Regions from separate parts of the Homo sapiens genome. Here region 2 is linked to region 1. Evidence: fine-mapped expression QTL. A gene starts in region 1. The other region holds a variant in brackets. All regions are shown on one strand. Distances are from middle to middle. Region 1 holds the start of AP5Z1 (adaptor related protein complex 5 subunit zeta 1). Region 2 overlaps RADIL (Rap associating with DIL domain).

Region 1 (10,465 bases):
CTGGGTGACAGAGTAAGACTCTACTTCAAAAAAAAATATATATATATAATATAATATATATGTTATATATAATGTTATATATGTTATATATGATATATATGTTATCATGTTATATATGATATATAATAATCATGTTATATGACATATAACACGTTATGATATATAACATGTTATATGTTATATATCATATATAACGTGTTATGTTATATACGTTATATATGTTGTTATATGCGTTATATACGTTATGTTATGTTATATACATTATTTCTAATGTTATATATGTTATATCTAATATATGTTATACATAATATATGCTATATATTATGTTGTTATATATGTTATGTTATATATGTTATATAGTTGTTATATATGTTATATATAATATATAATATGCTCTATCTCAAAAATGTATATAATATATATTTTATATATATTACATATAAAAATATATTTTTATATCTATCTATCTATCTATATATATATTTTTTGAGATAGAGTCTTATGCTGTCACCCAGGCTGGAGTGCAGTGGCATAATCTCAGCTCACTGCAGCCTGATCTTCTAGCTCAAGCAGTTCTCCCACCTCAGCCTTTCAAGTAGCTGGGACTACACTAAGCCCAGTGAATTTTTTTTATTCTTTTTTTGATTATATATAAAATATTATATATCATTATATATTATATATAATGATATATAATATAACATATAATATATAACATATAATTATATTATATATTACTAAATATATATGTAATATATAATATATAAAATGTTATATATAAATTATATATACACACATATACATATATACACACAATGGAAAATCTTTCCCAGAAAGGTGGAACCCCTCATCCCGATTAAATTCCCTTCAGCATATTCTCCAAGTCTCAAGCTTCTCTCTAAAATCCAACCCACCCAAACCCTTCAACAGCTCCCCACTGCTTTCAAATCCAAACTCCTACAGACCCCAACGCTGCCTCCAAGAGCCCGGCCCCGCCTTCCTTCTCCAGACTCCATGTCCTGTTTCTTTTGCTTCTGTCCCTTCGCACAGACCCTGTGCCTGATACATGCCCCACTAGCTCCCGAGCTAGTGGGCTGAGGCTCTTCCTCCTGGAAATCCCCGACCTTGCGGGGCACCCCTCCATGCCCCCATCCTTTACTCGCTTCCCGCTCTCTCCATTTATCCTTCAGCTTGCAGCGCTATCTTTGATCACTTTTTGCACCCTTGCTTTCCGTATCTCTGACACATTTAGAGAGAAACTAAAGTTCACTCCAAATCTTTTTGGCTTTCTTTGGAGACAGGGTCTCCCTCTGTCACCCGAGCTGGAGTGCAGTGGCACCATCATAGCTTACCGCAGCCTCAACCTCCTTGGCTCAAGTGATCCTCCTGCCTCAGCCTCCTGAGTAGCTGTGACTATGGGTACGTGCCACCACACCTGGCTAAGTTTTTTAAAAATTCTGTTTTGTAGAGACGGGTCTCGCTATGTTGTCCAGGCTGGTCTCAAAGTCCTAGCCTCAAGCGATCCTCCTAACTCGGCCTCCCGAAGTGTTCGGATTACAGGCGTGGGCCAGTCACTGCGCCTGGCCGGCTCCAAACCTTAACCCTCAAACTACAGTCATTTATTTTAAAATATCATCAGAAATCACAGGCTTAAGAATATTGTGAAAACTGGTAAGCCCTAATAGATTAACCTTCTTGAAACCCTAACAGAGGGCAACTGCAGAACTCATGTATGTTACATAGGGAAATTCAACCACACTCTATCCTCAAAAACGGCTGCCCACCCGAGCCAGGGAGGCAGAGAAACAGGTATTTAAATAGTGAGGGCTCAGCCGGGTATGGTGGCTCACACCTGTAATCCCGGCACTTCGAGGGGCCGAGTCAGGCGGATCACCTGAGGTCAGGAATTCGAGACCAGCCTGGACAATGTGGTGAAATCCCATCTCTACTAAAGATACAAAAAATCAGCCGGGTGTGGTGGCGGGCGCCTGTAATCCCAGCTACTTGGGAGGCTGAGGCAGGAGAATTGCTTGAACCCAGGAGGCGGAGGTTGCAGTGAACTGAGATTGCGCCATTGTACTCCAGCCTGGGCGACAGAGGGAGACTCTGTCTCAAAAGAGACTCTAATAAAAATAAATAAATAAATAAATAAATAAATAAATAAAGAGGGCTCTTCCTTTTGTTTTTCATGTCACAAGTTTATGACCTTGAGCAGAATGTGACTGGGAATGAAGTTCTCAGTGGGTGTTTTTCCTTGTCTCTTGGCAAGGACCTTGGGATTAACATGTTACATGCTGAGATGCCAGTATTTTTCATTTTCATATAGTCCCCACATTCACATGAATGACATATCTGTCCAGGATTGAAGGGAAGGTTGCCTATGTTGAGCTGCTGGGAGATGGTGCTGCATATTCACCAAGCCTCTTCCTAATGAGTGGACTCTTAAGGGTTATTTTGATCAGAGATTTTTGTCCTGTTCGGGCTTTAGAACTTAACCTGCCTTCAAGACCTCACTCACTATAATCACAGCAATTTCAACCACCCGAATCTTTCCCACCAATTGGTCTAGCTCTGAGTCCAGGTTTGCTTGTTTGTTTTGACATGGAGTCTCGTTCTGTCACCCAGACTGGAGTCCAGTGGTGCGATCTTGGCTCACTGCACCCTCGGCCTCCTGGGTTCATGCACTTCTCCTGCTTCGGCCTCTCACCTCACCAAGTTTGTTTACGTTTACCAAGGGGCTGTAGTGCTGGCTGTATTTTCTTTACTTTTTTTCTTTTTTCTTTTGAGACGGAGTTTCGCTCTGTCCCCCAGCCTGGAGTGCAGTGGCGCCATCTCAGCTCACTGTAACCTCCACCTCACAGGTTCAAGCAATCCTCCTGCCTCAGCCTCCCGAGTAGCTGGGATTACAGTCACCCACCACCACGCCCGGCTAATTTTTTTTTTTTTTTTTTTTTTTGTATTTTCAGTAGAGACGTGGTTTCCTCATGTTGGGCACGCTGGTCTCGAACTCCTGACCTCAGGTGATCCGCCTGCCTTGGCCTCCCAAAGTGGTGGGATTACAGGCGTGAGCCACCACGCCCGGTCAGCATTTTCTTCTTTTAAACATGTAGTATGAAGTCTTTGCCTGTTTGGTGGACCGTGAGTCTGTTCAGTCCTGGCTTACACTGTTTTCCCCCATGACTGGTTAGTTGGTGAGGAAGGAGCTACTCACTCGTTACTGGGAGTCCAGACACAGCCTGAAACCAGCCTGGAGGGTGATTTCTCAGCCTAGCTAATACATCCGCGCAAGAGAGATCTTTTTAAGTCACAAAACCCTCCCACGGTTCCGCAAAGCCCTCGGATGGCCTCCAGCTCCCCAGCCTGGCACACAGCCTTATTCCTTAGCAGGCCTCCGGACACTGTGACTTTGCGTTCTTGACTGTGAGGCACTGAAATCTCCCGGCTGCCCGATTTCCTGCCAGACGCGGAGTTCTCACCGCCAAGCCTTTGACTAAACTGTCGACTGGGTCCCACCCCACTTGCTTTCACTCACCAAGACTCTGCTCAAGTGTCACCTCCTCCGGGGACCCACCATGACCCTCCCCGACCTCCTCACCCCAAGCCTGGCCGCCGTGTTGCCTTACCCGATCCCCAAGTCTCGAGGGCGAGTCCAGTCGGGTTCCTGCAAGGCTGGCGCCCAAGCCCCTGCCCTGTGAGACCCACCCCCGTGTGCCCCTAGGGAGAGATGCAGGAAGGAGGGCCGGGGCCGCAGCTCCCCCGTACCTGGCCTGGTGGAGCAAACTCTCCGCTCCTGCCGAGAACATCACGCCGCCGCCACCAGACGCGCACGAACCTCGGAAACTCCAGGAGCTGCAGCCCAGGAGCTCCGCACCCCGGTCAACTTCCGGGACCGCGTCACGTGAGCGCAGCGGCCTTACGTGGCTGCGTCACGTGCCGCATCACATGAGCAGGAGGGACAGGTTGCCGACCAATGGGCTTTGGCGTGGAGCGACTGGGGCGGGGCGTAGGTGCCGCGGCCGGGGGTCCGGGTCGGCGCCTGGGAGCTGCGGAATCGCGCGACCCCGGAACCTCGGCACTCTGGAGCCCCGGCGCCCTTCGACCCCGGAAAGCATTTCGGCGGAAATTGGGCGCCTGGGGCTTTGGGAGAGGGCATTGCTGGCCCCAAAGTGTCACTGCCCCAGTTCTGGTTTCTGTTTCGTAAACAGCTTTGTCGTGCGGGAGTCCCTTTGCTAAGTACGACCTGAAAATCTGATGCAAACTCCGACACTTGTGGGCTGAGCCCAGCAGTGTCCAGCAGTTTGCAAGGAATAGCCGCGGCTCTGGGCAGTTTTGGGGATTTTTTGAGCTCCCATTTATTGAGCACCCATCCCGCGCTGTTCCTGCTGCTTGAAACGAAAAAATCCCTTATTCAATCCCCACGGTATTCATGGGATCTCGCGATCTCTGTTTTACAGATGAGGCCACAGGCTCGGAGAGGGGAAGTTTCTGTTCATTCTAACGGATGTGTTGGGTGCCCAAATGTGCTGGGCCCTGGCCATAAGTTTGCCATCCTGCAGACGGCCGAGGGACACAGGGCGACACGCCAGCGTCATGATAAACGCTATGACAGCCTGACCTGGTTGGGGGTCCAACCGGAGGAGGAAGGCTTCGGCGACTGCGGCCTAAGATGAGCCCAGAGGGTGTCCAGACCAAGGGGTGGGGAGGGACGGGCCTAGGGTAGCGATCTGCTTCCTATGGCTTAAATGCACCCCAGGAGGAAACTGATCTCTGGCCGCAGGGGAGATAATGGATTGGGAAGCTCCTGAGGGAGAAAGGAGGCTGGTGCAGTTGTGGTCCAGGTAAGGGAGGTTGCCCCGAAAGTAGGCAGATTCAGTACCATTTAGAGGTAGGATTTGCACCACCTGTGATTGAGGAATTTGCAGGCAGGAGGAAGAAAGTGGAAAAATCAAGGGTAACTTCATGTTTGTGGGGTGTCTGTCTGGGGCAGAAAAGGACGAGGAAATTTGTGCCAAGAGTCATTCATTAAGTGGACAAGCGATGATTGAGTCCTAGCTGCGCTAGGCACTGCTGAAGGTTCTGGGGAATAGGGTAGGGGTGGGAATCAATGTTGCGTAGATAGGGTGGGTCAAGGTTAGGCCTTGAAGGGATAAGCCCCGAGAAGACCCCTGGATGGAAGGAAGGAGGAGGAGGAGGGAGGGCTTCCTGCAGGAGTTCCAAACATGGCTTTGAGATGCCCTAGGGCGCCCAGTGATGTCTGAGGGCACCTGGTGCAGAGAATGAAGAGATGGGAATCGGTGGATGGTGAGCGGTGGATGGGAGTCGGTGGAGTGCGGCGGGTGCCCCTGGAGCCGCAGGTTGAAGACTGGCAAAGGAAAGCTGGTGACAGGTAGTCTATGGAAAGCCTACTGCCAGTGTTTAACGTTTACTAGGGTAAAACGTCCACACCAAAGCGCACAAATCTTAAATGAACTCCACTATTTACATTTCTAGAAATCGGTGGTAAATTTGCAAATGTCTTAAGCCTCGGCTCCATTGGCGACGGTGGGGAGCCGGGGGTTGATTTGTGTTTGATAATTTCTGTGGTGTAAATGTTCCTGCCATGGTTTGAGTTCAAGACCTAGACCATTTCCAGCTCCCCAGAGGTTCCCCGCTGTGGCCCCCTCCCAGTCAACGCCCACTCCCTTCCCCCACAAGTAACTGCTAGTCTCTCTTATCACCAGAGATTAGTTTTGCGTCTTTTTATACTTCATGCAAATGGAATCGTACCGTACTTAGCTTTTCTTGTTCGTCCATGAATATTTGGTCGGTTTCCAGATTTTGACAATAACGAATAGAGCTGCAGTGCACAATTGTATGTCTTCTGGGGTTCTGAGAGATGCACCCCTCTTTGTTGTATAGATACCAGGTTCACAGGGAAGCTAACTTTAACTGAGATTCCAACTGTGTGCCAGGAATCTCAATCTCTCTCTCCCTCTCTCTCTTCACACAGACACGACCTTAAGCAATTTTACCAGGGGTAATATTTGACTTGTTTCTTACAAAATATTTACATTAGTGTAAAATATTATTTTAAGGTCTCACTAGTGAAAAATGGTTGTGCTAATCAAAAGCAAAAAAGGCCAGGCACGGTGGCTCACACCTGTAATCCAAACACTGGGAGGTCGAGGCAGGAGGATCGCTTGAGCCCAGTTCAAGACCAGCCTGGGCAACATGGCAAGACCCTGTCTCTAAACAAGCAAGCAAACAAACAAACACAAAGACAACATCTTAAAAAGGAAAGATGCAATTAATAATTAGCCAACGCAGATCCCTGGAGGAAGCCTACATACGCTTCTCACTCATGTTTGCTATTGGGCTAAAATGTTTTTCTTTTTTTTCTTTTTTTTTTTTTTTGAGACTGAGTCTTGCTGTGTCCCCCAGGCTGGAGTGCAGTGGCGTGATCTCAGCTCACTGCAACGTCCACCTCCTGGGTTCAAGCAGTTCTCCTGCCTCAGCCTCCCAGGTAACTGGGATTACAGGTGCAAGCCACCATGCCTAGTTAATTTTTTGTATTTTTTTTAGTAGAGACGGGGTTTTACCATGTTGTCCAGGCTGGTCTTGAACTGCTGACCTCAAATGATCCACCCGCCTTGGCCTCCCAAAGTGCTGGGATTACAGGCGTGAGCCACCGCGCCCAGCCTGGGCTGACATCTTAAACTAGAACTAATCTGTTAAAGTTATGTTAACCTCTTACAATGGAAATGGAGTAACTTGAAGGAAGACAGAGAAGCAGTGAAACCTTACCTGCAATGGTGGGTAACTGTGCCATCGGAAAAATGCAAGTTATTGAACTGAGGGAGTCACATGCAAACACTACAGAACCTTGACAGAAGAGAGACATGTGACAAGCATGCACCACTGTCAAGTCTGTCGGAGGCAGTCACACAGACACACCCAAGGGTCTCATAAGTCTGGGGGACTCTCAGAAGAGACAGTGACTGATGGCATCGCAGCTGAGCTTCGGGGCGCCAGGCCTGTGGGGTGGGGGTGCCTGTGCTGCATGTGAAGAAGTGGGGCGCATTGCAAGCTGAAGTCCCACAGCTGGTAAGGACACAGTAGGAACTTGAACCCAGGTCTGTGTAGTTCCAAAGTCAATGCCATCCCCACCCCCCAGGCCCCACACCTACAATAAGTAAGGCCTGAGAGAATTTCTACCCACGTACATTTCTACCCATCTTGGACATGGGTAGAAATTCTCATCTAGCCAAGGGCCAGCAGGAAGGACCCACAGTTGCCCAGGAGCCACTGGGGCAGCAACGAGTACCTGCAAGTGCCCCCCAGCCAGGATGTGGGCGTGTGCCAGGGGCAGGGGGTTGGCTCAGCTGGTTTCTGCCTTTGCCATGTCTGAGGGGAGACACACGTTGTCTTCACATTCCTGGAGCTGCAAACATCCTCGCTTAGAGCACTCTCAGTGGGTGGGGGTCACTGACTCCAGGAGCCACAGGCACCTGCAGAAGCATCTCCTGTGTGAGCCAGGAACGGGACACCAGGGACCTATGGGCGACTTCCCTTATCAGCAGCCGCCCTTCAGCCTCTGGAGCAGGGGGGCGCAGTGCCTGTGTGTCCAGGGGGCCGGGAGCCTGTATGTCCAGGGGCTCAGGGGTCTGTGTGTCCAGGGGTCAGGGGTCTGTGTGTCCAGGGGGTCGGGAGCCTGTGTGTCTAGGGGGCCGGGAGCCTGTATGTCCAGGGGCTCAGGGGTCTGTGTGTCCAGGGGTCAGGGGTCTGTGTGTCCAGGGGGTCAGGGGCCTGTGTGTCCAGGGGGTCAGGGGCCTGTGTGTCCAGGGGGCCGGGAGCCTGTATGTCTAGGGGGTCGGGAGCCTCTGTGTCCAGGGGGCCAGGTGCCTGTATGTCTAGGGGCTCAGGGGTCTGTGTGTCCGGGGGTCAGGAGCCTGTGTGTCCAGGGGGTCAGGTGTTTGTGTATCCAGGGGGTCGGGAGCCTATGTGTCCAGGGGCCTGGTGTCTGTGTGTCCAGGCCGTCTGTCCGTCCGCCACCTTCAGTAGCCACCTGCGCAGAAGGACCACACCGGAGCCGCAGGGTCATTTCTTTAATATAGAATTTTATTTCTGGTTATAGAAACAAATGCTAAGAGGAGAAACAAAACTTCCCCATCCACATACAACAATTTAATAGATAAAAGAACAGTTAAAATAAATGAAAAACAAAAAGTAGAAATTTTAAACTTTGTTATAGCTTTAAAACATTAACGTCTGATACAATTAGAAATCACATTCAGATCTCAAACTCTTAAAAAAAAGTATGGCTCCTTATTAAAAAAATACTGTATCCCACTTGAAATGAAAACACAGGTTGCCTGCTGTTGACATGGGTGGGGCTGTCCCTTCCTCTGGTGTCGTGCGTGCCCCCTCCCGGTGCTGGGGTGCAGCCACACCCCCCCGCCGGGCGCCCACCTTCACTCCTCCAGGGTGAGACACGCAAGGTGACATGACCAGAACTTCACATCCAATGCTCTAGAACTGACATTTCCACTTCATAGGACACTGCTGCTTTTTAAAGCACTGATTATCAAACATGTTGTGAAAAATACTTTAGACAGGCGCCACTGTAAAAAAAAAAATACACACACACACACACACACACACACACACACACACACCGAACAACACCCGCCCCTCCCAAATTATTTTTACAGGAGAATAATCGTTCAGATTAAAACAACAAGAACAAAAACTCAATATTGGCTTTAACCCCTCCTGCACGTGTGCTGAGCTGCCGGCCTTTGTCATCTGCAGGGCACGTGCAGCCCAAGTGTCTGGACTCAGCGACATCTCAGGACAGACTCTGGAACACGGCTGTTGTCTCTCCTCCCGCCCCCCTTTTCCTGAAACAGAAATCAAGCCACATACATGAAGGTATTCTAGGTATCCAAAAAGCCTTTCTTGAAAAAAAGAAGAGCCAAACTTAAAATACTTGATTTGATTATTATTTTTGAGACAGAGTCTCCCTCTGTTGCCCAGGCTGGAGTGCAGTGGCATGATCTCGGCTCACTGCAACCTCCATCTCCCAGGTTCAAGCGATTCTCATGCCTCAGCCTCCCTGGTAGCTGGGATTACAGGCACACGCCACCACGCCTGGCTAATTTTTTGTATTTTTAGTAGAGACAGGATTTCACCATGTTGGTCAGGCTGGTCTCAAACTCCTCAGGTGATGCGCCTGCCTCGGCCTCCCAAAGTGCTGGGATTACGGGCATGAGCCACCGCACCTGGCCAAATATTTGATTTTAAATTCCCATTGTTACTGATTAAAAAAAAAAAATCTGGACCAGTTAACCTGGAGATTTAGAGGCTATAGACACAATTTAACATCCATACAGGCCTGTGAACTTCATGCAGAGAACAAACAAACAAACAAAAACTCTAATTCAGAGTCTCTCATTTCAGCTTAGCCAACACATTTGGAGACTTAGGGGCCAGTTCTAGAAGCTGCTTTTACCTCTAGACTCGGAGGGGCAGGCCCTGTCACCGAAGGGAGGAAAACTCTTCTTGGCTGTCAGCCCGGATTGAAGCCACTTCGCTTCCCCTGGCCCCAGCTTTCCTGCACTCTTTTCACCGTGTCTGACACAGGGCAAACCACCAACCACTCAAATGAGCAAACAATTCCAGAAAAAAGAATCCGAGATAAAGAATAACCAACTAGGAGTCTTTCCATTGTAGTATCACGCTAAAACAAAACAAAACAACAAAAAACAAAAACTGGGTAAGGAGCAAAAAAAGTGACAGAGGCCAGGCGCGGTGGCTCATGCCTATAATCCCAGCACTTTGGGAGGTTGAGGTGGGCAGATCACCTGAGGTCAGGAGTTCAAGACCAGCCTGACCAACATGGTAACACTCTCATCTCTATTAGAAATACAAAAATTAGCCGGGTGTGGTGGCAGGTGCCTGTAATCCCAGCTACTTGGGAGGTTGAGGCAGGAGAATTCGCTCGAACCTGGGAGGCGGAGGTTGCAGTGAGCCGAGATTGGGCCACTGCACTCCAGCCTGGGCGATAGAGCGAGACTCCATCTCAAAAAAAAAAAAAGTGGTGACAGAGTGACTTGGAGACCGCTTCAGTCACCTTTGGCAGCCTCTGGTGGCCTGAAATCTGGACGATGGAACTTAAGACGCAACTGGGTCACTGGGGCCTGAAGCGGGATGGGGGCGGGGGGCCCTCCGCAGCCAGTGTTCAGCAGCTTCACCAAAGCAAATAAATACATTCACGGCTTCTCCCTGGCCCCGGTATTTTTCTTTTCAACGCATTTTCCCCATGGCGAGAATGACAGGGCAGGTGCAAAGAGTGACTAAGATTCTTCCGAGGGGTTTCTCCCTGGACAGAAAGAAAGATGCCTAAAAATAAACTGACTGCCCTCTTAGTGATATTCTCTGATACTCCGGGCAGCCAAAACCAGCCATTAGGATGAGTAGAAGAAAC
Region 2 (16,048 bases), 26 kb before region 1:
ATAATAATAAGATTGTATCCATGAGAGAACAAGAGCGGTCTTGGAAAATAAAACTGTGGAAGCAGAAATAAAAAGCTGTGCAGAGCCTGGGAGAAAAGCCCTCCAGAGAGGAGGGTGAGGAGCGGGGAGAGAGAGGGGGCGGAGGGATGCCAGGGTAGGGAGGAGAGTAAGAAGGCAGAAGAAGATACAGGGAGAGAGGGGAGAGAGAGAAGGACGGGGGAGAGAGGAAGAGGGGAAGGAGAGGAGGAGAAGGAAGAGAGGAAGAAGGAGGAGGGAGGGGAGAGAGACAGAGGGAGGGAGGGAGAGAAGGAGAGGGAGGAAGGAGCGGAGAAAGATGGAGGGAGAGGAGAGGGAGGAGGGAGGGGAGAGAGACAGGGAGAGAGGGAGGAGGGAGAGGAGAGAGACAGGGAGGGAGAGGAGAGGGAGGAGGAAGTGGAGAGAGGGAGGGACAGGGAGAAGAAGAGGGAAGAGGGAGGGGAGAGAGATGGGGGGGAGAGAGAGGCAGGGAGGGGAGAGAGAGAGGGAGAGAGAAGAAGAGGGGTAGGAAGGAGGAGAGAGGGAGGGAGAGGAGACGGAGGAGGAAGGGGAGAGAGACGGAGGGGGAGAAAGGGAGGAGGGAGGGCAGAGAGACGGAGGGGGAGAAGGAGAGGGAGGAGGGAGGGGAGAGAGATGGAGAGAAGGAGAGGGAGGAGGGAGGGGAGACAGAGAGAGAGAAGGAGCGGGAGGAGGGAGGGGAGACGGGGGGAGAGAGAAGGAGAGGGAGGAGGGAGGGGAGACAGGGAGAGAGAGAAGGAGAGGGAGGAGGGAGGGGAGACAGAGGGAGAGAGGAGGGAGGGGAGACGGAGAGGGAGGAGGGAGAGGAGACAGACAGAGGGAGGGGGAGAAGGAGAGGGAAGAAGGAGGAGAGTTCTGTTCCCTTGAAGCTGATCTCTTGGCCCCGACCTCTGGTCCCGGACCAAGCACAGAAGTGAGAGTAGAGAAGGTTCTAGGAACTCACAATCAAACAGAACCACCCCCGGGCAAACCAGAGGCTTTCTTGAAGGGTGTGTAAGGGGTGAGGGTGGTGGGGGCCGGTGGTGTTGGAGGACGTCGTTCTGTGCCCTCACCCCTCCTGCACGACGCCCGAGACACCGATTATCCTTCAGCGTGGACATCTGGTAGCCACAGCCCAGGCCCCTGGATATGGGCAGAAAAACACATGGGAGAGAAACAGAGCGAGGAGGCAAAGGTGAGAACAGAGGGGACCCAGCAGCGAGGCCACATCCAAACAGTGGGAGTCCAGAAAGAGCCAGCAGAGGGGTGGAGGGCGCGGGGAAGGCAGGTGCAGGCAGTCTCCAGAGCCACGCATTGAGGTGGAGGAGCTGCTGCCAAGAGTGGGCTTACAGCAAAACTCAGCATCCCAGGGCTGCAGGACGATGGGTGCAGAGAACCCACAGGCTTCCAGACAAGAATCAGTACAAGGCAGACCCTGAAGATTTGCACTCAGGTTGCTTTGGACGAGCAGCACGGGAGTCACAGGACAAAACAGCACCTGCAGAATCCGAAGGGTGACGCCCTCCCGCCTGGAGTTCTGTGCCAGCCAGATGACCAGTCCAGGGTGGAGGTGAAGACAGTTCCAGCACGCAGGGCAGTGGGTTTCCTGCAATGCGCCCCTTTTGGGAAGCTACTAGAAGATCTATTCCATAGAAACAGGACAAACCAGAGAGCTGAAGAAATGAATTGCAGAAAATAAGAACCGGCTGGGAGCCGGGGAAAGGAACCCCAGAAGGATGATGATGGAGGTCCTGGCGGGCCGCAGAGGCTGTTTAATTTTATTGGAGGGATCCACCCTTCCTTACGGTGTAGGCTTTTTGTCTTGCCTAAAACGTTTTCCTGGGCCGGAGCCAGTGGCTCATACCTGCAATCCCAACACTTTGGGAGGCTGAGGCGGGAGGATTGCTTGAGGCCAGGAATTTGAGACCAGCCGTGGAGTTTGAGACCAGGAGTTTGAGACCAACATAGTGAGAACTCCATCTCTACAAAAAAAAACAAAAACAAAAAACTAATGAGCTGGACATAATGGTGCAAGCCTGTGGTCCCAGCTACTCAGGAGGCTGAGGTGGGAGGATCGCTTGATCCTGGGAGGTCGAGGCTGCGGTGAGCTGTGATTGAGCCACTGCACCCCAACCTGCGTGACAGCATGAGACTCTGTCTCAAAAAACAAGCAAACAAACAAATGTTTTCCCTGCCTCCTGTCACCTAAATGATGAATGTCCCTGCCTTCCAGGCAGGTTTTTAGCCGACTTGATTGATTTCTTTCACACCGTTGGAGGCAGGAATCTGATTTCACTGTTCATTTCCCAGTAGTGGTTTCTCTGGTTGGCGGCCGCCTGTGAGGCCGGCCCTTGCTTGAGACGGGGGTGGGTTCCCTGGGCAGGGGGTTCCCGATGGCACTGGCCGGCCTCTCCCTGGAGCAGCTGCCCTTGGAAGTGCCAGGGGTGAACTGCTGCTGTGACACCGTCCCCCTCACAGATGGCCCCTGGTGGGAGTGAGGACCACAGGGCCCCTCAGCTGGCTACCCCCAGGCCACCTGTGGAGGCCATCCCTCTTTGGGCTGGGGTCTGCACCCAGAGACCTGTGACCATGAGCTCCTTCTTGTCACCCAGATGAGCTGGACAGCCCTGCGGGCTGCGTTCCCCGCACTGAGCCCAGCACAGCTGCACCGGCTGCTGACTCACTACCAGCTGGCCTCGGCCATGGGCCCCATGAGCACCTGGGAGCCAGGGGCCCAGGACAGCCCCGAGGCCTTCAGGTCAGGTAAGCCCTGCCCCAGGGCAGGAGAGGGCTGGGGACTCAGTGGGAGACTCGCCCCGAGGCTGGAGGCAGCATGCTCTCATCCCAACTGAAGTGGGGTGTGGGGGACCTCTCTCCTGGGGACCTCCCTGGAGGAGCCTCCACCCAGAGGACCCCCCCGCCCCGCCCCATCCCCAACCTGGGGATCCGGGGACCTCCTCGGCGGGGGAGTCAAGGAGCCGAGAGTCCATGCCCAAGTTCCAAACTCCAGGCTCAGGTCCAAGGCCCCCTCGTTCCCTCACGGAGCCGGAGGATGGGGCCTCCCCTGTTGTATGGCTACCCAGGAAGGGAGCAATGGTGGTACACAGCCGTGGGGACGCATCCCTGAGCCATGTATGTGCACACGCACACACACATGTCCATACGGAGGGGTCTGTGTGCGCATACATGTGTACGTGCATACATAGGGGTGCGTTTTATTTTATTTTTATTTTTGAGACAAGAGTCTTGCTCTGTCATCCAGGCTGGAGTGCAGTGGTGCAATCTCAGCTCACTGCAACCTCCACCTCCCAGGTTCAAGCGATTCTCCTACCTCAGCCTCCCTAGTAGCTGGGATTACAGGTGTCCGCCACCACGCCCAACTAATTTTTGAATCTTTAGTAGAGACGGGTTTCACCATCTTAGCCAGGCTGGTCTCGAACTCCTGACCTAGGTGATTCGCCCACCTCAGCCTCCCAAAGTGCTGGGATTACAGACATGAGCCACCGTGCCTGGCCGAGGGTGCCTTTTATTGATTGATTGACTGAGACAGAGTCTCACTCTGTCACCAGGCTGGAGTGCAGTGGCTCGATCTTGGCTCACTGGAACCTCCACCTCCTGGGTTCAAGCGATTCTCCTGCCTCAGTCTCCCAAGTAGCTGGGATTACAGGTGTGTGCCACCATGCCTGGCTAATTTTTGTATTTTTGGTAGAGACGGGGTTTCACCATGTTGGCCAGGCTGCTCTCGAATTCCTGACCTCAGGCGATCTGCCTGCTCCTGCCTCCCAAAGTGCTGGGATTACAGGCGTGAGCCGCCACCCCCGGCCAGGGGTGCATTATAATGTGTAGATTATACACACATCTCCCTTCATCTGCATTATGTGTTAACACCTCAACAAAACAGAGTACGGGATGGCGGGAGGCGCAGAGGCGATGGGGCCTTGGATGCCCCCCCGCAGCCCCGGGTCACCGTGGAGAACATCTCTGAACAGGAACCCTGGCTCCACCTGACACCTTCTAAGTCCTTCCTCCGCATTGATTCATTTCTGTGGCCTGAATTCTGTGCTGGGAGCTAGGAGCTCAGTATGCACGCACTCTTCCGCCGCCTGAAAGGTGCTCCTGTTCCTGGGGGCAGAGAGCAGCCCGCACACAGGCCGTTTGGGTCCCGTGATTCCTGCAGGGAGGCAGTCGGCTCCAGCCCTGGGAGGAGCTTGCGTCCAGCTCTGCCGGGCTGGGGGAGCTCCAGTTACCCGGAGACACCATCAGAGACCAGTGGGGCAGAGACAGGCCCAGTGCAGAGCGGCTCAGTGGGGCTGGAGGGTTCCTGGCTACAAGGCCTTGTTCTCAGTCCTGAACTGCTCGGATGTCACACCGGGTGGTCGGCGGGAATTCAGAAGGGATGAGTCCTAGGGTGGGGCCAGTCACTGTGGCCAGGATCCCAGCCTCCTGTGTCCACAGGGCAGGGGACTCAGGGCTCAATCTGCTGGCCCCTGGGTTCCCACACCGTTGGGCGGGGCGGCCTGGCGAGGGAGGCAGCTTCTCCTGTGGCCATTACGGGCATCCTCTCTCCCCTGCAGAGGATGTTCTGGAGTCCTACGAAAACCCCCCACCCATCGTCCTGCCCAGCGACGGCTTCCAGGTGGACTTGGAAGCCAACTGCCTGGACGACAGCATCTACCAGCACCTGCTCTACGTCCGCCACTTTCTGTGGGGTCTGCGGAGCAGAGCCAGCCCCGGCAGCCCTGGCAGGCCTGGCAGTGGGGCCTCCCAGCCAGTGTGCCCCGAGGTACCCGGGGAGGGGGCCCCCCAGCCAGCGTGCCCCGAGGTGCCCGGGGAGGGGACCCAGCCAGCGTGCCCCGAGGTGCCCGGGGAGGGGGCCACCCAGCCAGCGTGCCCCGAGGTGCCCGGGGAGGGGGCCCAGCCAGTGTGCCCCGAGGTGCCCGGGGAGGGGGCCACCCAGCCAGCGTGCCCCGAGGTGCCCGGGGAGGGGACCCAGCCAGCGTGCCCTGAGGTGCCCGGGGAGGGGGCCACCCAGCCAGCGTGCCCCGAGGTGCCCGGGGAGGGGGCCCCCCAGCCAGCGTGCCCTGAGGTGCCCGGGGAGGGGGCCCAGCCAGTGTGCCCCGAGGTACCCGGGGAGGGGGCCCCCCAGCCAGCGTGCCCCGAGGTGCCCGGGGAGGGGACCCAGCCAGAGTGCCCCGAGGTACCCGGGGAGGGGGCCCCCCAGCCAGCGTGCCCCGAGGTGCCCGGGGAGGGGACCCAGCCAGCGTGCCCCGAGGTACCCGGGGAGGGGGCCCCCCAGCCAGCGTGCCCTGAGGTGCCCGGGGAGGGGGCCCAGCCAGAGTGCCCCGAGGTACCCGGGGAGGGGGCCCCCCAGCCAGCGTGCCCCGAGGTGCCCGGGGAGGGGACCCAGCCAGCATTCCCCGAGGTGCCCGGGGAGGGGGCCCCCCAGCCAGAGTGCCCCGAGGTGCCCGGGGAGGGGGTCCAGCCAGCATTCCCCGAGGTGCCCGGGGAGGGGGTCCAGCCAGCATGACCCGAGGTGTCTGGGGAGGGGGCCCCCCAGCCAGCGTGCCCCGAGGTGCCCGGGGAGGGGGCCCAGCCAGCGTGCCCCGAGGTGCCTGGGGAGGGGACCCAGCCAGCGTGCCCCGAGGTACCCGGGGAGGGGGCCCCCCAGCCAGAGTGCCCCGAGGTGCCCGGGGAGGGGGTCCAGCCAGCATGCCCCGAGGTACCCGGGGAGGGGGCCCCCCAGCTAGAGTGCCCCGAGGTGCCCGGGGAGGGGGTCCAGCCAGCATTCCCTGAGGTGCCCAGAGAGGGGGTCCATCCAGCATGCCCCGAGGTACCTGGGGAGGGGGCCCCCCAGCCAGCGTGCCCCGAGGTGCCCGGGGAGGGGGCCCAGCCAGCGTGCCCCGAGGTGCCCGGGGAGGGGGCCCAGCCAGCGTGCCCCGAGGTACCCGGGGAGGGGGCCCCCCAGCCAGCGTGCCCCGAGGTACCCGGGGAGGGGGCCCAGCCAGCATGCCCCGAGGTACCTGGGGAGGGGGCCCCCCAGCCAGCGTGCCCCGAGGTGCCCGGGAGGACAGGAGAAGGGTTGGAAGCTGGGCTGGGGGCAGCAGGCGGGAGCTCTGGGAACCCCGGGAGTCCTGGCCCAGCGCAGGCTGTGCTCCGGATGGCGGGGAAGCCCCTTTGCCTCTTGCGCGTCTCAAGCTGCACAGGCTGCGGGAGTCCTTTGCTGACCTCTGCCCCGCGGCCTGGCGGCCCTTCTGCTGCAGGCTGCCCAGTTGCCCGAGTGCTGTGTCCACCTGGCCACTCCTCTACCTGAGCTGTCACCCTTCCTCTCCCTAGGGTATGCACCACGTGGTCCTTGACGGGCACCTGGAGGCCCCGAGCTGCCCCCTGGCTCCCAGGGACCCTGGCCCAGCAGCCCGGGAAGTGGCCCCGGAGCGTACTCTTCCCTTGAGGGGGGCTCCCTGGGCACAGGCCCCCCCTGGAAGGCAACCCAGCCGTGGGGGCTCCCAGGCTGGCCCCCCGCACACGGACTCGTCCTGCTTGCTCACGCCTCCCAGCACTCCACTTGGCCCTGAGCCTGGGGACCCCGACTGGCCAGAGTCCGGCGGCCCCTGTGGAAAAGCGCTCCCAGAGAGGCAGAGGAACGGACTCAGCGGCCTCCGGGGTGCAGCTCCGGAAGGTGAGCCCTGCCTGGTGCTCAGGCGGGAACCCACCCCAGACCCCGCACAGCACCCTGATGGCCGGTCCCCTGGGATCGTTCCCCCCTTGGGTCCTAGGTTTCCTTACCTGCCCCACAGACACCTGCAACCTGAGACGGGGCCAGATGGAGAGGGCTCAGGGCTGCTCAGCCCCCAGCAGCTGGGCCACACGGTCGCTCAGTCGCTGACACGTCTTGGGCAGATACTCACTGTGATCTGGGAGGGAGAGAGTCTAGAAAGTGGCTCAGAGTCACTCCTGCACTGGGCAGAGGAAGGGATGGCTGAGCCAGTGGAGAGGATGTGCTGAGGGGGAACCCAGGGGTCTTCAGGGAGAAGGTGGAGCTGGAGTCCTCCAGGGCAGGGCCTGTGTGTGCCTGTGTGCTTGTGCGTGTGGATATGTGTGCTCACAGGTGCATGGGTGTGCTGGTGCGTGTGTGCATGGGTGTGTGCATCTGCATGGGTGTGTCTGCATGGTGTGCATTGTGTGTGCATCTCTGCATGGGTGTGTCTGCATGGTGTGCATTGTGTGTGCATCTGTGCATGGGTGTAAGTGCACGTGTGCATGGGCATGCTTGCACATGTGTGCATGGCTGTGAGTATATGTGTGCATGAGTGTGTGTGCGCAGCTGGCCTAGGCTGGGGAGGGCATTGAGGGTGAGGCAGCCCCAGCCGGCCCTGGCCTCCTGTGAGGGGCTTGGGTGTGCCTTGCAGGAGCGAAGTGTCCTGGGTGCGTGTGCAGAGTCAGAGTGTCCCCTGTGGCTTGGGGCCACCTGGCCAAGCTGGGTCCCAGGCAGGCCACTTGCTCAGGTGCACAGCTCATCTCTGACCTAAGTGCACCCACGGCAGGATCACCATTATGGAGAGGGCACCAGCTGGTGGCCCTCAGGGCAGGTGCTTGGGCTGGGCTGGGCTAGGGCCTGGGGCCCCGGTCTGGTCAGCGGTGGGAACCCTCAGGGTGCACATGGCCACATCTGGGTGTGGAGGGAGGAGGAGGAGGAGCAGAGATTGCTGAGGAGGTGGCACAGAACCGCGTGGGTCCCTGGAGCTGGAAAACAGCCGCCCCCAGAGGGGCGAGTGTCCTGGGACTGCCAGGGGCGGGGACTGAGGTGCTCCCTCAGGGAACATGGGGGTGTCGCCCATGGGCGGACCCCGACCCTAATGTCTGGGTTGCCGGTCACATTCTGCCTGAACAGCGTCTCCTGGGAGCCACAGGAGGCCATCCCATCCCTGACGCCCTACAGAGGCAGCCAGGCCAGGACATCCCATTCCTCGTCGTGATTCCTGGCGCCTCACTCCCACCCACCTTTCCTGGCCCCCACCCAGGAGACTCTGCAGCCCTTGCGGAGGAGTCCCCTCCAGCCCCGTCCAGCCGCAGCTCCAGCACCGAGGACTTCTGCTACGTCTTCACGGTGGAGCTGGAACGAGGCCCCTCCGGGCTGGGGATGGGCCTGATCGACGGGATGGTGAGTGGCCCAGGACCCTCGCCGCACCCCCATACTGGCTGCCTGGCCCCGCCTGTTCATGCAAGCCTGGCCGCAGCTTGCGTGGCCACGTGGCTACAGGAAGGCCTTCGGGGAGGAGAGTGGGGTTGGCCTCTGCAGCTGGGAGGGGAACCCAGCCTGTCCAACGGCCACGCCCCC[TG/G]GGCCTGCTGTCTCTTGCCTCTGTCCTCAAGCCTTTGGGGTCTGTCCTGGGCCTGTGGGGACGGTGGTGTCCACTGCTTTTCTGGAGGGACGCGTGAAACCATGAGTGGGCCTGGCTGGATGCCAGGCGGGGGCCTGTAGGTGCCAAGGGAGGGGCTGCAGTGGTCCTCGCTGGGGACAGCCAGTCGGGCCTGCGGAGCTCTGAGGCCTCTGCTTGTCCCCAGCACACGCACCTGGGCGCCCCCGGGCTCTACATCCAGACCCTGCTCCCGGGCAGCCCCGCAGCGGCCGACGGGCGCCTGTCGCTGGGGGACCGTATCCTGGAGGTGAATGGCAGCAGCCTCCTGGGCCTTGGCTACCTGAGGTACCCCCACCGCATGCACGCCCGGCCCCTTCTCCCAGATGCCCTGCTCAGGGGAGTGGACCTGGGGTAAAGGAGAGGCCCGGCTGCACCCTGTGGGTCTCCCCTGGTGCCCTCCTGCCCACCCCCACCTCTGGCATGGATTTCAGAGCTGTGGACCTGATCCGTCATGGCGGGAAGAAGATGCGGTTCCTGGTCGCGAAGTCCGACGTGGAAACAGCCAAGAAGATCCATTTCCGCACGCCCCCTCTCTAGGGGGGCTGCGAGGACACCCCCACAGGCCCGGCACCCGGTCCCACCTGGTGACACTGGGCTTCCTCCCGCCTTCGTCCCTGTTTTGTAACTGACCAAGTTGGGTCCCGGGTGGGGAGCCTCACCCTGGGGACATGCCTGTTGATAACATGCATCTCAGTGTAGGTTCTATTTATATGGCAGATGACGTGAAATTGTGATGTTTGTTACAGAGCTTTTATGTTTAAAGACTTCAATGGAGAAGTACGGTTCAATAAACTATTTTTCCCGTTCTTAGAGGGTGCCCTGCTGGGGTCTCAACTCGGGCAGCAGGCGTGGGCTGCTCGGAGGGGCCGCAGGGGCTCCCCATGGCCTCTGCCTGCCACCGGCACGGGAGAATGCAGTGACAGCTGTCATCAGGGGATCATCTGAACTGACTCTCCCTGCCCCCGTCCCACCCAGACACAGGGCACTGCAGGAAGCAGCTCCAACAGCCCCTCCCAGCTGAAGCAGGGCCAGACCTGGCAGAGGATGCTGGACTTCTGATCCCGCTGCTCAGCACAGGCCCCAGAGAAAGGTCTAGACACCCAGGCGTTGGAAAGTGGACCGGCCTGATGGTCTCTGAGGCGCCGAGCCCACCCTGGGCCCTGCTTCCTCTCCCAGGACTCCTGCTCCCTCCTGAGTTCCTCTCCCCTACTAAAGCCACCAGCGTGGCCCTGATACCAGGCTGGCGGCCCCAGGCCCTTAATCCTCACCAGCGTCCCCCTGGCCACCGGCCCTAACCCGGGCAGGAGGCCAGCGTCCCTCTCCACCAGCTGGCTGACCATGCGCAGGACCAGGGCAGGGCACTTGCTGCCTCGGGGTGACAGCGTGGGTCGCTGGGCATCCTCAGCAGCTCCACCAACTGGGTGTGGGTGGCTTCCGCGCCCTCCTGGCTGTGGTGGAACTGGTGGCCCAGGGTCATCTTTGATAGCAACAGAGAAACCCTGGGGAAGAGGGTCCCGGCATCAGTTGCAGATGCACCTCTCACTGGGACAGAGGTCTGTGCGGGGTCCCCAGATCGGTGTCCTGGGTCTGTCCCAGGCCCTGGGCCTCGTGCAGCTCCACGCTGCCCCCTGGTGTGCGCTACGGCGAGGTGCAGCGCGTCCGCCCCGCGCCCTCTGCCGACCCGCAGTTCTGTGTGCGGCTCCGCATTGCGCCTGGCTCGAAACGGCGACCACTGCCAGGTTCCCAAAATACTGGATAAAATATATATATATATATAGTGTTTGTATATATATTTAAGATATGTAAAATATATGAATATATATAAATATATAATTATATATGAATATATTACATATTCATGTATACGTAATATATTCGTATATTTTATAAACATTTTTTATATTTTATTATATAAAATATAAATATTTAATTTTTTTTTATGAGACGGAGTCTCGCTCTGTGACCCAGGCTGGAGTGCAGTGGTGCAATCTCAGCTCACTGCAACCTCCACCTCCCAGGTTCAAGCAATTCTCCTCAGTCTCCTGAGTAGCTGGGATTACAGGCGCCTGCCACCACGCTTGGCTAATTTAGTACTTTTAGTAGAGACAGGGTTTCACCACGTTGGCCAGGCTGATTTCAAACTGACATCAAGTGATCTGCCCGCCTTGCCCTCCCAAAGTGCTGGGATTACAGGCGTGGGATTACCATGCCTGGCCTTGTTCTGTTTCTTTTCCTAGGAGTCCCACAACGTGTGTGTTAGCACTGCCGAGAATGTCTCACAGCTCTGGACGGTCTGCATTTCTGGACCTGGTGCAGATCCCAGGATCCTGGACTCTGATTTGATGCCTTAACGGTGGAAGGGGGTTGAGTATATTTTTTATGTGGGAGGGGTGTGGACTGTGGCCAGAGGAAAGACAGTGGCAAGGCATTTCCAAAGGTGGCCACCAACAGTTCCTCCCACAAAGAGAAGGGGGCTTATCTCTTCTTCCCTGCAATATTCTCCGGCCTTCTGACTTGCTCCGAACAACAGGATGCAGCATAAGTGATATTCTGGGACCTTCCAAGCCAGACTGAAGGGCCTTTGGTTTCTATTTTCATGCTCCTGGAACTCAGCATCCATGGAAAGAAGCTCTTGGCATCACCCCAAGGAAGGGAGGCCCCGTGGAGTCGGGGAGGCCCAGCTAGCCTCTGGCCGCTGAAGCACCTAGCTGAGGTGCGGGACTGGTGAGGGCTGCCACTGGCTGTTCTGGTCTTGCTGAGCTTCCAGGCGAATGCAGTCCCACCAGTGATCCCGGGGACACCACGTGGAGCAGAACGACTTCCCAGCCAGGCCCCAGACAATCTACAACACTGTGAAAGGTAACACTTCTTATGGGTGTTTTGTTTTTTGGTTGTTTTGTTGATGGAGTTTCACTCTGGTCACTCAGGCTGAAGTGCAATGGTGCAATACGGCTCACTGCAACCTCCGCCTCCCAGGTTCAAGTGATTCTCCTGCCTCAGTCTCCTGACTGGGATTACAGGCACCTGTCAGCACACGCAGCTGATTTTTGTATTTTTAGTAGAGACCAGGTTTCACCATGTTGGCCAGGCTGGTCTCAAAACTCCTGACCTCAGGTGATCTGCCTGCCTCGGCCTCCCAGAGTGCTGGGATGACAGGCGTGAGCCACCGTGCCCGGCCTGTTTTTGTGTTTTAAAAGCATTTTATTTTGACATAATTATAGATCCAAAGGAAGCTGCAAAAATAGCAGAGTCCCGTGTACCTCCACCAGCTTCTCCCACTGCAAAACCTGAAAACCGACGTTGACTTGTTACTATTAATATAGCAGTTACGCTTTGTACATATTCAGTTGTCACCACTTTTTAAGTTAAAGTGGAATTCACATAGAGTTAGCTATTTAAAGTGTATAATTCAATGGCAAGCAGCACGTTCACAGTGTTATGCAACCATCACCACTGTCTAGTTTGGTCACCTCCAACGGGGAAAACACGGCCACTAAGCAGGCTCTCCCCATTCCCTTCTGCCCCTAGGCCCTGGCAACCACAAACCCACTTTCTGCCTCTGTCTACACCTCTTGTGGATATTTCATGTAAGTGTTATCAGAAAGGGGTCCTGATCCAGACCCCAAGAGAAGGTTCTTGAACCTCGAGCAAGGGAAAATTCAGGGCAAGTCCATAAAGTGAAAGCAAGTTTATTAAGAAAGTAAAGAAACAGGCCGGGCACGGTGGCTCACGCCTGTAATCCCAGCACTTTGGGAGGCCGAGGCGGGCAGATCACGAGGTCAGGAGATCGAGACCATCCTGGCTAACACGGTGAAACCCCGTCTCTACTAAAAATGCAAAAAATTAGCCGGGCGTGGTGGTGGGCACCTGTAGTCCCAGCTACTTGGGAGGCTGAGGCAGAATGGTGTGAACCTGGGAGGCGGAGCTTGCAGTGAGCCGAGATCGCGCCATTGCACTCCAGCCTGGGCAATAGAGCAAGACTCTGCCTCAAAAAAAAAAAAAAGAAAGAAAAGAAACAGGCGCAGCGGCTCATGCCTATAATTCAAGCATATTGGGAGACTGAGGTGGGTGGATCACCTGAGCTCAGGAGTTCGAGACCAGCCTGACCAACATGGTGAAACCCCATCTCTACTAAAAATACAAAAATTAACTGGGTGGGACAGACGCGTTGGCTCACGCCTGTAATCCCAGCACTGTGGGAGGCCAAGGCCTGACCACCTGAGGTCAGGAGTTTGAGACCATCCTGGCCAACATGGTGAAACCCCGTCTCTACTAAAAATAGAAAAATTAGCTGGGAATGGTAGCAAGCGCCTGTAATCCCAGCTACTCAGGAGGCTGAGTCAGGAGAATCACTTGAACCTGGGAGGCGGAGGTTGCAGTGAGCTGAGATTGTGCCATTGTATTCCATCCAGCCTGGGTAACAGAGCAAGACTCTGTCTCAAAAAAAAAAAAAATAAATAAATAATAAAATTAGCTGGGGGTGGTGGCACACACCTGTAATCCCAGCTACTCAGGAGGCTGAGGCCGGAGAATTGCTTGAAACCAGGAGGTGGAGGTTGCAGTGAGCCGAGATTGCATCATTGCACTCCAGCCTGGGCAACAGGGCAAGACTCTGTCTCAAAAAAAAAAAAAAAAATGGCCACTCCAAAGGCAGAGCAGCAGCATGAGCGCTAGTGAGTATATTTAGAGTTATTTCTTGATTACATGCTAAACAAGGGGCGGATTATTCATGAGTTTTCTAGGAAAGGGATGAAGATTTCCTGGAACTGAGGGTCCTTCCCCTTTTTAGACTACATAGGTAACTTCCTGACGTTACCGTGGCATTTGGAAACTGTCACTGCGCTGGTGGGAGTGTCTTTTAGAATGCTAATGAATTATAATTAGCAACTAACGAGCAGCAAGGATGACTAGAGATCACTGTCGTTGCTGTCTTGGTTTTGGCCAGCTTCTCTACAGCATCCTATTTTATCAGGAGTGTCTTTGGGACCCGCATCTTGAACCTGTACCTTGTGCTGACCTCCTGTCTCATCCCGTGACTAAGAATGCCTGTCCTCCTGGGAATGCAGCCCCGCAGGTCTCAGCCTCGTTTTTACCCAGCCCCTATTTAAGACGCGGTTGCTGTGGCTCCCACGCCTCTGACCTGAGTCATGCAGTATGTGGCCTTGGGTCTGGATTCTTTTGTGTCCGGAATTGGTGGGTTCTTGGTCTCACTGACCTCAAGAATGAAGTCGCGGACCCTCGCGGTGAGTGTTACAGTTCTTAAAGGCTGCGTGTCCGCAGTTTGTTCTTTATGATGTTCGGATGTGTTCGGAGTTTCTTCCTTTTGGTGGGTTCGTGGTCTCGCTGGCTCAGGAGTGAAGCTGCAGACCTTCGCGGTGAGTGTTACAGCTCTTAAGGCGGCGCGTCTGGAGTTGTTCGTTCCTCCCAGTGGGTTCGTGGTCTTGCTGGCTTTAGGAGTGAAGCTGCAGATCTTTGCGATGAGTGTTATAGCTCATAAAGGCAGTGTGGACCCAAAGAGTGAGCAGCAGCAAGATTTATTGCAAAGAGCGAACAAACAAAGCATCCCGGTGTGGAAGGGGACCCGAGTGGGTTGTCACTGCTGGCTCGGGCAGCCTGCTTTTATTCTCATCTGGCCCCACCCACATCCTGCTGACTGGTAGAGCCGAGTGGTCTGTTTTGACAGGGTGCTGATTGGTGCGTTTACAATCCCTGAGCTAGACACAAAGGTTCTCCATGTCCCCACCAGATTAACTAGATACAGAGTGTTGACAAAAAGGTTTTCCAAGTCCCCACCAGAGTAGCTAGATACAGAGTGTCTATTGGTGCATTCACAAACCCTGAGCTAGACACAAGGTGCTGATTGGTGTGTTTACAAACCTTGAGCTAGATACAGAGTGCCAATTGGTTTATTTACAATCCCTTAGCTAGACATAAAGGTTCTCCAAGTCCCCACCAGACTCAGGAGCCCAGCTGGCTTTCACCCAGTGGATCCTGCACAGGGGCTGCAGGTAGAGCTGCCTGCCAGTCCCGTGCCCTGCTCCAAAGGCACTCCTCAGCCCTTGGGTGGTCGATGGGACTGGGTGCCCTGAGCAGGTGGCAACACTCGTTGGGGAGGCTCGGACTGCGCAGGAACCCACGGAGGGGAGGGGGGAGGCTCAGGCATGGCGGGCTGCAGGTCCCCAGCCCTGCCCCGCAGGAAGGCAGCTAAGGCCCAGTGAGAAATCGAGCACAGCAGCTGCTGGTCCAGGTGCTAAGCCCCTCACTGCCCAGGCTGGCGGGGCTAGCCGGCGGCTCCGAGTGCGGGGCCCACAGAGCCCACGCCCACCCGGAACTCGCGCTGGCCCGCAAGCACCGCGTGCAGCCCTGGTTCCCACCGCGCCTCTCCCTCCACACCTCCCCGCAAGCTGAGGGAGCCGGCTCCGGCCTTGGCCAGCCCTGAAAGGGGCTCCCACAGTGCAGTGGCGGGCTGAAGGGCTCCTCAAGTGCTGCCAAAGTGGGAGCCCAGGCAGAGGAGGCGCCAAGAGCGAGCGAGGGCTGTGAGGACTGCCAGCAGGCTGTCACTTCTCACTTTCACTTAGCATATAATGTTTCTAAGGTTTATCATCTTTTCTGTAAATCTGAAAAACTATTCTAAAATTTCAGTTTATTTAAAAAAAAAGTTGAGAGCTGGTGAGCTTTGCCCTTTTCCCAGCTGCCTCCTGGAGGCCACCTGAAGGTTGCTCCTCCCTGGGCTGGGGTCATGCCCTCCGAGGCCCTGTGGCCATGAGCTCCTCCTTGTCCCTTGGATGAGCGGGACGGCCCTTCAAGTCACACTCCCAGTCCTAAGCCGGGCGCTGCTGCACAGGCTGCGGACTTAGCACCAGCTGGCCTGGGCGGTGGCCCCACGAGTGCCTGGGAGCTGGGAGCCAGGACACCCCCGACGCCTTCAGGTCAGGGAAGCCCCGCCCCAGGGCAGGAGGGGAGCTGCGGACTCAGTGGGAGACTCATTCCGAGCCTAGGGGCAGCCCCACGCTCTCTGAGCTTCGGGATGAGCCCAGCAGCGCCCCCACACCCACTGCTGCAGGCGGGGTCGTGCACCGCACTGGGAAGTGATCCCGAGACCCGCGCACTGGCACGCACGCCTTGGTATGCACAGTTGTACACGTGCGCTGCTGTTTCCACGTGGAAACACAAACACAGTGCTGCCGACGGAAGCGCCTGCCAGCGCCAGCCTTTCCTGCGGCCCCGGCTCAGCGGCCCTGGGCTGTCATCGCAGGCCGCGGGGGACACCAGCCGTCCTGGAGCTCGGAACGCGACCCAAGGCCCAGGCTGTGGGGCAGGCGAGCGCTTCCTGGGCTGGAACCTGGCGGTGAGGACCCCGCGGTTCGGCTCGGGCATCTGGGGAGCTCCTGAGCCCGCACGGTGTCCCCTGCTCCGTTCCTTGCGCGTCACTCGCCCCCTCCATAGTCCTGAGGCTGGGCAAGGGGCAGGACCCTGCAGTCGCCTTCAGCCTGTGGTTTCTTAGTCGCAGAGCTATGGGGGATTGGGGGCGGGGCCGAGGCCGGAGGGGAGGTGGGCGGGGCCAGAGCAAAAGAGGAGACCGGGGGCGGAGCCAGAGTGGG

The links. PIP is the estimated chance that this variant, and not a neighbour inherited with it, causes the effect.
Region 2: its variant is fine-mapped to the expression of AP5Z1 in whole blood (TOPMed, PIP 0.94).

Annotation. Positions count from the first base shown.
Region 1 is chr7:4,769,054-4,779,518 of GRCh38, reverse strand. It overlaps AP5Z1 (adaptor related protein complex 5 subunit zeta 1), which reads right to left and starts at 3,896. Exons shown (of 17, transcript NM_014855.3): 1 at 3,763-3,896. The coding sequence starts at 3,803. It overlaps FOXK1 (forkhead box K1), which reads right to left. Exons shown (of 9, transcript NM_001037165.2): 9 at 8,077-10,465. RefSeq lists enhancers at 3,218-3,327, 3,348-3,407, 3,748-3,817, 4,248-4,337, 4,378-4,427 and 2 more and a silencer at 3,938-4,067.
Region 2 is chr7:4,792,314-4,808,361 of GRCh38, reverse strand. RADIL (Rap associating with DIL domain) reads left to right here. Exons shown (of 15, transcript NM_018059.5): 10 at 2,646-2,796; 11 at 4,608-4,816; 12 at 6,367-6,709; 13 at 8,052-8,191; 14 at 8,593-8,732; 15 at 8,879-11,307. The coding sequence ends at 8,984. AP5Z1 (adaptor related protein complex 5 subunit zeta 1) reads right to left here. Exons shown (of 17, transcript NM_014855.3): 17 at 13,965-16,048. Among named protein-coding and RNA genes, the nearest start is that of MIR4656, 12 kb to the right of the region's middle. RefSeq lists enhancers at 1-90, 14,760-15,434, 15,539-15,618 and silencers at 10,135-10,184, 16,009-16,048. The variant TG/G (reference allele first, on the strand shown) is at 8,369.